Regions from separate parts of the Homo sapiens genome. Here regions 1 and 3 are each reported to be linked to region 2. Evidence: microRNA targets listed by miRTarBase, many of them from high-throughput screens and not tested one by one. Region 2 holds a microRNA gene; each other region holds the end of a gene's coding sequence.

The links. Region 2 holds the annotated microRNA hsa-miR-3198 (GUGGAGUCCUGGGGAAUGGAGA, at 2,126-2,147, opposite strand). A microRNA usually pairs through its seed, bases 2 to 8, with sites in the 3' UTR of a target mRNA and lowers its output. Matches are read on the target gene's strand: a 7mer-m8 pairs with bases 2 to 8, a 7mer-A1 pairs with bases 2 to 7 and ends in A, and an 8mer does both.
Region 1: miRTarBase lists ELMOD1 as a target of hsa-miR-3198. Seed matches in the 3' UTR shown: 7mer-m8 at 1,199-1,205.
Region 3: miRTarBase lists SLC25A5 as a target of hsa-miR-3198. The part of its 3' UTR that is shown has no 7-base or 8-base seed match.

The regions. Positions count from the first base shown.
Region 1 is chr11:107,664,752-107,668,751 of GRCh38, forward strand. ELMOD1 (ELMO domain containing 1) reads left to right here. Exons shown (of 12, transcript NM_018712.4): 12 at 274-2,028. The coding sequence ends at 446. Among named protein-coding and RNA genes, the nearest start is that of SLN, 45 kb to the right of the region's middle.
Region 2 is chr12:54,229,282-54,233,634 of GRCh38, forward strand. MIR3198-2 (microRNA 3198-2) reads right to left here and starts at 2,195; the gene lies at 2,116-2,195. It overlaps CBX5 (chromobox 5), which reads right to left. Exons shown (of 5, transcript NM_012117.3): 5 at 1,661-4,353.
Region 3 is chrX:119,470,558-119,474,910 of GRCh38, reverse strand. SLC25A5 (solute carrier family 25 member 5) reads right to left here. Exons shown (of 4, transcript NM_001152.5): 4 at 3,515-4,010. The coding sequence ends at 3,853. Among named protein-coding and RNA genes, the nearest start is that of SLC25A5-AS1, 3.6 kb to the right of the region's middle.

The DNA.
Region 1 (4,000 bases), not on the chromosome of region 2:
AAGAGATGGCAGAACTGATTTGTCTTCCTGCTTGGGAAGAGTGAGAATGATTCCAGGGCCAATTGCAAAAAGCTTGCAGATTGGTAGGCTTCAACTGCACTGATTTTAAAGAATAATCTTAAACAGTGGTATTTTCTAGATTTTGAGGTCTTCTTTGAGCTCCACGGTTGCTGTGGCTTGGTTCAGCATCTTCCTCAGCATTCAGAATGATTTTGAATGTGATTAAGGATTTTTTTTTCTCCTGCATTCTTATCATTGTATTGTCTCCAACAGGCTATTTGATGCATGAATTTCATAAGTTTTGGATCGAAGAGGACCCCATGGACATAATGGAATTTAATCGTGTGAGGGAGAAATTCCGCAAGAGGATCATCAAACAGCTGCAGAACCCAGACATGGCGCTGTGCCCACATTTTGCTGCCTCGGAAGGTTTAATCAACATGTAGTTGCCCACGCCGGTTTTAATGGATACCCTGGAACACTGCCTCATTGTCTTGTTAGATCTCTGCTTAGGTCGCAGCTCACGCATTGAATGCACACAGTGATTGTATGCATGCCTTTTGGTACAGTGTTTTCATCTCTTGGTCATAATTCCGAGATCCCCAGAGACCACTGTTTCTGGAGTATCTGTCATCCAGTGACTGCTCATATTGTGGCATTATGCAGTGTTACATCTTGCCTTGATACCCAGGTATGGAGAGAGTTTTCTATTTTTTTAGACTTTTTTTCCTCTCCCTCATAATTCAGCATTAAAGAATTGTATTTCTCTAGCTGTATTTTGTATGTAAGAGGTTTAGCTGAATCTCATTCTGTGAAAGCCTTTTAATTTATTGAAATGTTTCATGACTACTGCTGCTAGCTCTTCAAGCCAGGTTCATGCTTGGACCTCATTCTGATAAAGTATAAGACTTTAAAATAATACAAAACAGGGCCGGGCGCAGTGGCTCACACCTGTAATCCCAGCACTTTGGGGAGCTGAGGCGGGCGGATCACGAGGTCAAGAGATCGAGACCATCCTGGCCAACATGGTGAAACCCCGTCTCTACTAAAAATAACAAAAATTAGCTGGGCGTGGTGGTGGGTGCCTGTAATCCCAGCTACTCGGGAGGCTGAGGCAGGAGAATCGCTTGAACCCGGGAGGTGGAGGTTACAGTGAGCCGAGATCATACCACTGCACTCCAGCCTGGCGACAGAGCAAGACTCCATCTCAAAAATAAATAAATAAATAAATAAATAAATAAATAAATAAATAAATAAATAAATAAAATAGTACAGACAGACACATGATAAGCCAAACTGTTCCTGCAAACATAGCTATGCTTCATGAGGCTTACAAGAAGTAACTTTAGGTAGGAGCTGTTTTTGTTTGAAGTACTGCAAAATTATATTGTAACTTCCCCTCACCCCAGTTGCAATTGTGTCATAGTCATCTGTATATCAAACTATTTTATTCCCATAACTTCATTGGCTTGGATGCCTAAGTGTATGATGCTTGAAGCCTCAGAAAAGAAATAAGCATATTTCAAAAGCTGCAAAAGGTTTTTCACTGCCTGCCTCTTGCGGAACTGGGTTACACCCTGGCACTGTTCTGATCCAAGCATATTTGCTTGGGGAACTAAGTGCTGACTAGTTTGTTTTCTATGTCAAGGGGCAATATTAAAAAACAATTTGCAAGAAAATGTGTTTCAAGAGAGCAACCTAAGCTAAGTCACTCTGCGATATTTCTTGAAAATAACGACCTTGTCTTGTATCAGTGGAAGAAGTAAGTTGCTTAGAAAGGGAAAAGTCAAATTGTTCCAGAACTGCTAAAAATCATTTTAAAAACCATGATTTAGTTTGGAATTATGATTGTAGTCTGTTGAATAGTATTTACCATGGCATTTCATACCCATGGTATTTTATACCTTCTGACTATCAATTTTAGTATTATTAGATGTTTGTGTAACCACTTGCTTATTTAAATGAATTTTGAGTACTGCCTAATTGTCAGTTATATGAATAAATTACATGTCATTCTACTGTAACGTATATTGGATTTCATATTAATATTTTTGTGCTCGTACAGCTTCTGAATATGCAAATATGTGAGTGAATGGAATGTCAAAGACAGACAACCTGGAGCTGACTATAAATCACACCATCATTCAGAGTCAGCAGGTTCACAACTTCCTAGGAAACCTGGCTTGGCTGTTGCTAGATAAAGCAGAAACATTAACTACCCATTGTTTTCTTGGCCTTTCTCTCCCTTCTGCGTTTGTATTATCCTTTCCTTCTGCGTTTGTATTATCCTTTCCCTTTCAGCCATGTACCAGGTGGCAGCATTTTGCATTGCCTTTCTTATGGTCCTGTGTCCCTTCTTAGAATGCGGAAGGGAAAGAGTTGATTAGCACATGGTGGATACCATGAGTAATGACAAGAATGTATATTCCTCTCTCAAGTAGGGGAGAACTTGTCAACCTAGTTCCTCAGGCCTGCCTGAGGAGCCCTGAATTTCCACCGTAGCTGCAGCTGCTGTAGATGAAGGCATTATTCCACATGCAGTCCAGCCTTTGCAGCCACATGTGCTCATTGTCTCTTTTTATCCATTGTGGTCCCATGTCACTGTCACGGCTTGACAGCATGTGGCACTTACACCAGCTTGCGTCTCTTCTGTTCAGATAGAGATAGTTGACGCCAACAAAGCTAAGAGTTTCCCCTCTCAGCTCCTAGGATGCTTTCTTTCTATTGTATTTGAACATGGCTGCACAATCTTAGGATGAACAAGCTGTGACGGCTCCTTTGAGCTCTGAGTATTATTAGATTTCTCATTCACACCACTTTGTGGAAGATGCATTCCACCCAGTCACACAAAGTGAGGTGAGAAAAAGAAGAGGAGAGGTTTCAAAAGCATCAACAACATGTGGAGTGTGTGTGTGTGTGTGTGTGTGTGTTTCCCTTGAATATTTTTAGCTTATACTTTTCCATTGAATAAGGGTTGACCACATAAAATGTCAATTGTGCGGCAAGCCTCTTCCAAGTCTTCCAAAGCACTACTTGCTATGATAAAAACACATTCCTGTTTGCACTACAGAAAGAAAACCTTCTGAAGCACTGTTTCTGAAACTTGACTCTGACCTTCCTTCTCACGGTTCTTGTTATTGTACTGTGCTGAAAAACTTTTGCCTGGTAACCCACCATCTTTTCCATATTTGAAAAGAGGCTTAAATATATGCCAATCCCAAAAGACAGGGTGACCTTACAATATATCTTCCAAAACAGAACACTGTTGAGAGAGAAAGGGGATGTTGTTAATGGTTTCTTTAGAACAACAGAGTAAACTGGGACAGTTTAAGAAAACTGAGATGTTAGGTGGCCAAGAGAGACCAAGAGACAGACATAAGGATTGTCCACCCACAACTTAATTAGGCAAATATAGCCCAATTTCTTTACTTTCAAGCCTCTGGCAGGAGAAGTACATCATACAGATATAGACATTTTGATATCCAGGATACTACCCAAAATCTTAGAGACCCATCACAAGCATGGGCTTGGTTTGAGCTGAGAAATTCAGCTGCATAGATGGGGCCTAAGTTGGCAATAGGCAATCAAACTCCATGGCAACAAATTATCTTGATCCGTAAACATATGGTGCCAGATCCAAATTGAAGGGGAGTGAGGAGGGGACCAGAGTTGGTGGAATATGAGGATAGGAGATGGCAGATGATGGAGAGAAGAGGAAGGGGGCAGAGAAAAAGGAAAATATCAGCTAGACCCATAGCCACTAAGCCTTCTGACACAGACTCTATTAAAGCAATGCCTCTAACTCTTCAGGGAGCTCAACAACGGTAGCTGCTCTAATCTAGAGAAAAAAATGACAGAAAAGCAGAACCAAGTATAACATGAAGTCCTAGAAGATGAAAGAGATTCTGGTACAGATTCCATTTCAAGAGCTCACATTTACCAGGTTTTTATGCCATGTGCCAGGACGGTGCTAGTCCTTACCTTGCATTATTTCATTTCC
Region 2 (4,353 bases):
AAAAAAAAAAAAAAAAAATTAGGCTGGGCACAGTGGCTCACGCCTGTAATCCTAGCTACTCAGGAGGCTGAGAGAGGAGAATCGCTTGCACCCGGGAGGCGGAGGTTGCAGTGAGTTGAGATCATGCCATTGCACTCCAGCCTACGCAACAAGAGCAAGACTCTGTCTCAAACAAAACAAAACAAAAATTAGCCAGGTGTGGTGGTGGGCGCCTGTAGTCCCAGCTACTCGGGAGGTTGAGGCAGGAGAATCGCTTGAACCTGGGAGGCAGAGGTTGCAGTAAGCCAAGATTACGCCACTGCACTCCAGCCTTGGCAAAAGAGCGAGACTCCATTTCAAAAAAAAAAAAAAAGAAAAACATAGAACTGTGTGCTCAGTGATCCAATGAAGGGGATTCCCACACAGTGATCCTCCATTTTCCCCAGGCTGCCAGTGCTGCACTGATTTCACAAGCTCTGAAGCTCTTTAATGAAGACAAAAGGAGAGGCAAAATTGCCCAGTTCCTGACTTCTCCAGCACACTGAGGCAAGATTCCTGGGAGGAGAGCTATGAGCAATGATGAGGTCATCTGAATGAACGCCATGCAGGCACAGCCCCTCACTGAGGGAAACAAAAACCAAGACATAGTTTAGGAATACAAGCGTGGGTGTCAAAACCCTGGAGTTGTGCTTTCCAGTGGGCCTGAGACAGAGACAAAGTGACATGATGTTTAGAGAGCAAGAAAGAGATCGAAAGGGAAGAGGGCAAGCAGTCTCAGGCTTCCATGGTAGGAAATAAATAATGTCCAGAAGGGTCTGGCTCTGAAGTGGACCAAATGGCTCTCCTGTCCCATGTTTATGAGGTCATGGACCATTAAGCCAGCCAACCTACAGATGTCTTCATAAGACTTTACGAGATTAGACTGGGGAGACCCTATAACTCAGCAAGAAAGGAAAACAAGAGGGGAGAATTGCAGGTAAGAGATGGTAGAAACAAGTGCTCCGCTCCAGAGGCCTCACATATCAGTGGGAGGATATCTGGGTTTGGTGACCCCTTCATCTTCCTCACTTCTCTCTTCTGTGAGTTTCTGCCTATCTCCATTAGATTCAGGGCTACATCAGGCTTATATTATTCGATAATTTCTTGATTATCCACATACTTTCCTCCTCCTAACTTCCAACTGACCTCACACCATGTTCCTGACCTGCAAGCCTTCCATCCTCAGAGAAGTTTCTTTGGTATTTGTGAAGCAAATCAGAAAGATAAAATACAAAGTTTACAAATTCACATATTTTCAAACCTGATTTAGACTGCATTTGCTTGATGTGGTATTCCATAAGTTCTAATAGCCATGAGATGACTCTTCCAGGGATCCCTAGGTTGCTGAAGCCTAATATTTATTCTCTGAACCATTAGGAGCAGAGAAGAGCATGGAAACCAGGAAAGGTACACACTGAACCAGTTAAGGAAATAAGAGTAGGAAACAGGATACGCATTATCTTATTTCCTCAGGCTTGCGCCAACCTGTGGTTATTTGCAGAAAGTCAGAGACCAATAATCCTTAGAAAAGAAGCCCATGTTCTCCAAGTCTTGTTGCTCTTTCAGAAATTGAGCTGACACTCCAGGGCCCAAATTAAAGAAGGGGCATAAGACCCAGATCTTTAAACCACCACTCAGAATCCATATTTGAAAAGCAACCATTTATTAGAACCAATACAAGAGTATGAAAAGGGGGAAAAGAGGAGGGTAGAAGAGGGGGAGAGAATGAGGTCTGCATCAGATGTCAGTTATGGAAACACATAAATGCTTACTTTTTAAACATTTACATTTAAAAGGTGAACATATATATAGACCACTTATACTTTAAAAAAAAAATCAAAAGCAGACATGTTTGGCTGAAATAAAACCAAGAAACACAGCTAAAACTCCCCCATAAACCTAAAAGTCCATGGAGAATTCAATTTCTCATTTCCATTCAGAAATCTGGCTACAAAGTGATTTGTTTGCTATTTGGGACAGTACAGAGTGCTGAAAGAAACCCAGCTCTTGAGTCTCTTAGATCCCATCCTGTAGGAAGTGGTGGGAAAGCCAGCGGACCATGGGCAAGTCAACTCCTGGCTACTTGGCAGGGAGTCAGACTGTGCTCTCTCCATTCCCCAGGACTCCACAGAACCATCTGGTACTGCTAGTGCTGGGTGAACAGTGAGAGCAGAGTCCACAAAACACAGAGAACCAGAATGTGACCGCAAGGAGCCAGGACCTTGTGCTTTTTCATGGATTACAAATCTAGGGCCAAGGAGAGGGAAAGCAGAAAGAGCCCTATTGGGAAGAGGAGCTGGCTGCGCCCCTAAACTGAGATGGAAAGAGTAAGGCTCTTGAGCCCACACCTGGCCAAGTAGAAATAGTGTCCAAAGTTTTCTCAAACCAGAGGGAAAAAAGGTCAAGGTTAGGTTCAGACTGCAGACACTAAGAGATGACAGATGTTGAATACGGTGAATGGGATGAAGCTTTAAGGATCAATGCCCAATTCTGAGTGTTATACACATTTCTAGGAAAAATAATTCCAATGTAGCTTTTGGGGGTGGGGGGTGGAAATAAGGTGGTCACATTTATTCAATCAGCTGGTCCCTATGAGGAAGGAGAGGCCCAGGTACAGATACCACAAAGGGGTACAGTGACCCAGCTGTCCTGGGATTGGTTGGGGAGTGGTAAGCAATGACATAAATCAAAACCATTGAGGGTTGCTTTGATCCTGAGACAGTCTGAGTCTGCTTCAAACCCATGGGGAAAGGAACTTTAATCCCCAACCTGCAGAGAGAAATACGCAGTAGCATCCCTGCCTCACGATTCCCTAATCCAATGCTCTTGAATCTGAAATGGCCTCCCTCTGTGAATGCAAGACACAGAAAATCCCAAGTGCCTTCCCCAACAACATCCTAAGTAAGTCTGGACTAGTAAGATTCCAACATTCATGAAAACACTGTCAACATCTGAACTAGCAGCTTTGATGAGGGGTGGGGGGCAGAAAATTTGCCGAGTCACTAAGTAGTTCCAGTCTTGGAGACAGCTCAGTGAGGACCAAAGCCTGTGTGTCAGGCTTAAACTCTGGCTCAAGACATCCTCCACAGAGGACCCTGAAGTATTCTATTAACTTTGATTTACAATGCCTCACAACAACACCCCTGTGAGGTAGGTCAGTATTATTAACCCCATTTGACAGATGGGGAACTGAGGCATTGAAAGAAGTGACTTGCCCAAGGTCAACCATTATCAATCAGTTGAGGAGGTGGGCACACAGAGTCAGCATCCACTCGATTCTTGTTCCATTTCCCAGAGCATTTTACCTCTCAGAGTGTACTTGGGAGCAGAGGGAAGTTGGCAGGATACACCTCATTCCACAAACTAGATTAATTCAATAACTGAAGGGTATTAACTGAGGGCCTATTATTTATCTAGTATAATGTGAGGAATCTTGGAAAAATGAACTGCTTCTGAAAGTCATGTTATAGATGTTTTGAAAATAAAATTACATCTTTAACATTAAGGACATGAATTATTTTGTAAAGAAATATTCACTTTATCTTAGGAGGTGAAGGACTAAGTCACACTGATTTCTCAGAGTTTTATACTGAGTAACCTGAATTCCTAAAATCCAGAAAGCAAGATCACATTCCAACAGAAACAATGAATAAGAACCTTTTCCCCAGTGGTGGTTCTTGGTAGCGCTCTTATAAAGCTGCAAGTTGGTGGCGTGGGAATCCTAGCACCACAAAACACCCTCTTACTACATCACATCCCTCCCCACAATACCCAGAGGGCTGCATTTTTCCAACCTTTCTGCCTCAGCTCAACTTCAAGAGTTACAGCATCTTCAAAAACACCTCAAGGGTAAGGATACAAATGGTGACCCCTGCTTTTCTATTCAGGGAGAGGGGATGAAAATATTCTCTGTAACTAATCATATAGACTCTTGAATTCTTTCCTCCTGTGAGAGATGTAACTCTTTAACAAAAAAAAGGTAGAAGAAAAAACAGTTATGTCTTTTCTCCCCCTTTGGATTTACTTTGGATTCTGGTAGAAATCATTATGTCTCTTATCCTAAACTGAGGAGGTGAGGGGTGAGGGTGACACGAGACAAACACCAAACTCACCACCAGCCCTCGTTTAGAATCCAATCCTAAAGCTACCGGAAACCAGAACACTGACTTGAGCCTTAAGAGTGTTGTGACATGATTAAACTGTCTTTTCAGGTGTTCTCAAAGAATTTCTAGGCAGAAAGCCTCTCCTTTCTTCCATACCTCTTCACAGCAGCCAGTGTAGGAAGTCCCCACATACAACAGAAACTCAAAAGATGATTTATCAACACATACAGTA
Region 3 (4,353 bases), not on the chromosome of region 2:
GGTTTAAATGACTTACCATTCACGAAAACTGCCGCTCTGGGAAGACACCCCTCGTTTCTTTCTCCGGCGGTCCGGAGCGCCCGTAGCGCGCTGCTTCCAGTCACTGAGTGCAGAGGGCCCTTGGAATAGGAAGCACGGCTGTGCACAAGCTGACCTGTGTTCTGGCTCTCTCACCTGGAATCAGGCTTCACGGATCCTGTTATGTATTGAATAGTAACAAAACAACGGCATAAATTAGGGTGTTGCTAAGATTGTGTACCATCAACGTTCGCATGAGCGTAATGGACATAATGAATTCTATAGCACTATCCTGCACAGCTTGGAGAGATTAAAACCACTTTGTCTTTAAATTAAATTTCAAAAATCATTGAACAAGAATAGAAAGAACAACAACAAAAAAAACCCCCACCTCATCTATGTCAGCTACCCAATTGCAGGAGGCACCACTTCTTGCTTTCTGATCATTAATGCCTGGTCCTAGGTTTATTTTAATAGCTGCCAGCTCAGTGAGTCCACATCTATTGTAATAACCATAAAGGGGGCTTGGCTCCTCTTGCATCGTGTATGCAGCCCTTACTGGAGAGCCTCTTATCCCCTTTCAAGAATAAAATCTACAACTGAAAAAGAACTAACCTGAAGTTTATTTTGTATAAATGCTACACAATATAGTATATCTAGTCTGTTGCAGAAAAAGAAAGGTGAGCTTGAATTCATTCTTAAGCAGTGCTGTACTTGGGCAAATCTTCACTCAACAAACCTGGGTGCCGTATTATGTGAAAGTTCACATCGGAGTGCTTGCTAAATGCCAGGCACCATACTTCTGGCTCTACATGCTTTCTTATGCTTAACCCTCACTCACAACACCCCTAAGAAATATATGAGCAGTCCAGGAGAGGTGGCTCACGCCTGTAATCCCAGCACTTTGGGAGGCCAAGGCAGGCAGATCACCTGAGGTCAGGAGTTTGAGACCAGCCTGGCTAACATGACGAAAACCCATCTCTACTAAAAATACAAAAATTAACCAGGTATGGTGGTGCATGCCTGTAATCCCAGCTACTTGGGAGGCTGAGGCAGGAGAATTGCTTGAACCTGGGAGGCGGAGGTTGCAGTGAGCCGAGCTCGCACCACTGCATTCCAGCTGTTAAAGATTTCATAGTCTTTAACAGCACTGCAATCTCAGCACTATGTAACTGTACCAGCTCTAATCCTCTACTCTGAATGGGCGACAGAGTGAGACTCCGTGTCAAAAAAAAAAAAAAAAAAAAAAGGAAGGAAAGAAATATATAAGCGCTATTATATCCCCACTTCACAGACGAGGAAACTGAGGCTCCCGGGGATTAAGTGACTTGCCCAAAGTCACACAGTAATCAGCAGAGCCAGGATTAAAATCCAGGTATGTCTGATTGATTCTAGAGCCCCTGAAATCTGCCTCCTAAGAACTGTCAGTCACCATTTATGTAATGCTTATTATGTTCTATGGTAGATGCTTGGCATAAATTATTTAATCTTTGCAACAACCCTCTGAGGCAGGCATTATTAATAGCCTCATTTTACAGATAAGGAAAACCAAGGTTTAGAAAAATTAAGTAACTTGGCCTAACACAACTGAACATCAGAGTCCAGAACTTCAGCCCAGGCCTCTTTGATACCAGAACAGAATTCTTAATAACTAAGCTATACTACGATTCAGGTGCCTGGCCAGAGGACAAACATAAACTCTGGGATCCTTGGGCATTCATCCATGCCATGCAGACCTCTCTGTGAATAGCTCTTATACATGCCAGTGTGTGGGATATTCCTCAAGAATGAGCTTTACATGTACACATGGAGCACCCGTTCTATCATTTTTAAAGTTGTGGCTTGACAGACATAATGCTGCATTCTTAGTACAAATCTCATGGCAAAATCCACTGGATTTGAGCCCTAATCAAGAGATACAGAAAGTCCAAACACTGTCACATGGATTCCAAATAAGGGTTTATTGAAAATAAACATAAATGCCCTCCATTGACTGGGCTTATTAGCATGAAGCAAAAGGCAGATGCTATTTCCTCTTTGTAAGGTTAGTTTTGAGGTCGTGGCCAATGTCTGGCCCTCTTCATAATCTTTAACAGCACTGCAATCTCAGCACTATGTAACTGTGCCAGCTCTAATCCTCTACTCTGAATGGAATTAAAAATGGCTTGAGGCCAGGCGTGGTGACTCACATCTGTAATCTCAGTACTTTGGGAGGCCGAAATGGGCAGATCATGAGGTTAGGAGTTCGAGACCAGCCTGGCCAACATGGTGAAACCCCGTCTCTACTAAAAATACAAAAATTAGCCCGGCATGGTGAGAGGCGCCTGTAATCCCAGTTACTCAAAAGGCTGAGGCAGAATCGCTTGAAACTGGAAGGGGGAGGTTGCAGTGAGCCAAGATTGTGTCATTGCACTCCAGCCTGGGCGAAAGAGAGAAACTCCATCTCGGCCAGGCACGGTGGCTCACGCCTGTAATCCCAGCACTTTGGGAGGCCAAGGCAGGCAGATCACAACGTCAGATCAAGATCATCCTGGCTAACACGGTGAAACCCCGTCTCTACTAAAAATACAAAAAATATTAGCCGGGCGTGGTGGCGGGCACCCGTAGTCCCAGCTACTCGGGAGGCTGAGGCAGGAGAATGGCGTGAACCTGGGAGGCGGAGGTTGCAGTGAGCCGAGATCGTGCCACTGCACTCCAGCCTGGGCAACAGAGCAAGACTCTGTCTCAAAAAAAAAAAAAAAAAAAAAAAGAGAAACTCCATCTCAAAAGATAGATAATAAATAAATAAATTTTAAAAAATTGCTCTAGCTGGCCAGGCACAGTGGCTCACGCCTATAATCCTAGCACTTTGGGAGGCCGAGGTGGGTGGATCATGAGGTCAAGAGATCTAGACCATCCTGGCCAACATGGTGAAACTGTCTCTACTAAAAATACAAAAATTAGCCAGGCTTGGTGGTACACACCTGTAGTCCCAGCTACTTGGGAGGCTGAAGCAGGAGAATCGCTTGAACCCAGGAGGCGGAGGCTGCAGTGAGCCAAGATTGCACCATTGCACTCCAGCCTGGCAACAGAGCAAGACTCTTGTCTCAAAAAAAAAAAAAAAAAAAAAAAAAAAATGGCTTGAGCCAGGTGAAAATGAAGGCAACTGGATGAAATTGGTATTGATTCTAAAAGTTTAAATGAGGTGATATTCATGCAACAAACGTAACCATTTTAAAGTGGATAATTCAGCTCATGGCTCATGATTAATAACCATAGGACTAGAGAAGGTGGGTTCACAGTATTTCTTGGAGAAAGCTCATTCAGCTATGATCATCCATAGGCAATGGAACAATGTTTTTTGGATGCACTGGGCCTGAATTCCTTTGCTAATGTGTTGGAAATGTTTGTGGGTGGCACAACCAAGTTATTCTGTTAAGCGGACTGCTGACAATTGGTTTTAAAAAGACAGTTCTTCATCTCCGGAGATACTGTAGCATTTATTAAAAATGTAGCATTCACTAAAAAGGTAGTATTTATTCGAATGTAGCACTCAAATATGCATTTTTATATGAAAATATACTGCAGACAAAATTTATTTTAGATATTTTTATTTCTCCAAATTTGTTATTTATCAGGAGTGACTGAAATAAAAAATACAATTGAGTCCCATCATCATCATCATGGAAATGGCTTTAAGAGAAAACTGGTCAGATGAATATTATTGCTTCCCATTTTCAACCAGTAAATAGTTGCCACTGAGAAACTGACAGCCAGGAGTCTGTCAAGAATGCTCAAGATATGTTATATAATACAACATGCCTGTTCACAGGGGGAAAAATCCTAGGAAATAACTTATGTGTACTTCTTGATTTCATCATACAAGACAAGCACAAAAGCACCACCCATGCCTCTGAGAACATTGGACCATGCACCCTTGAAAAAAGCTTTGCCTCCTTCATCACGAGCAATCTTCCGCCAGCAGTCAAGCGTGCCTGTGTACATGATGTCAGCTGCAAAGAATAAAGACATGGAGTTAGTGACTGAAGGCCGATGAAAAATCCTAAGATTCACTAGGCTAAATAAAGCAGAGCCCCACCTCTAAGAACGTCAGCTTTAAATCCAACATTCACACATTAGCATGGGCAACACTGAAATATTAATGCTATGACCACAGGAATACAGACTACCCATTGGTCTTAACCTCTAACACCATTTAAGCACCCTCATTCATAGGCATCTGAAGGGCCAGCTCAAAGGCAGTTGTGGAACAGACACAGATGCTATCAACCCCATCCCTTGACTTGGACAGACAGCCATTTTAAAGGTATGTATCACCAGTTTGTGGCAGCAGAT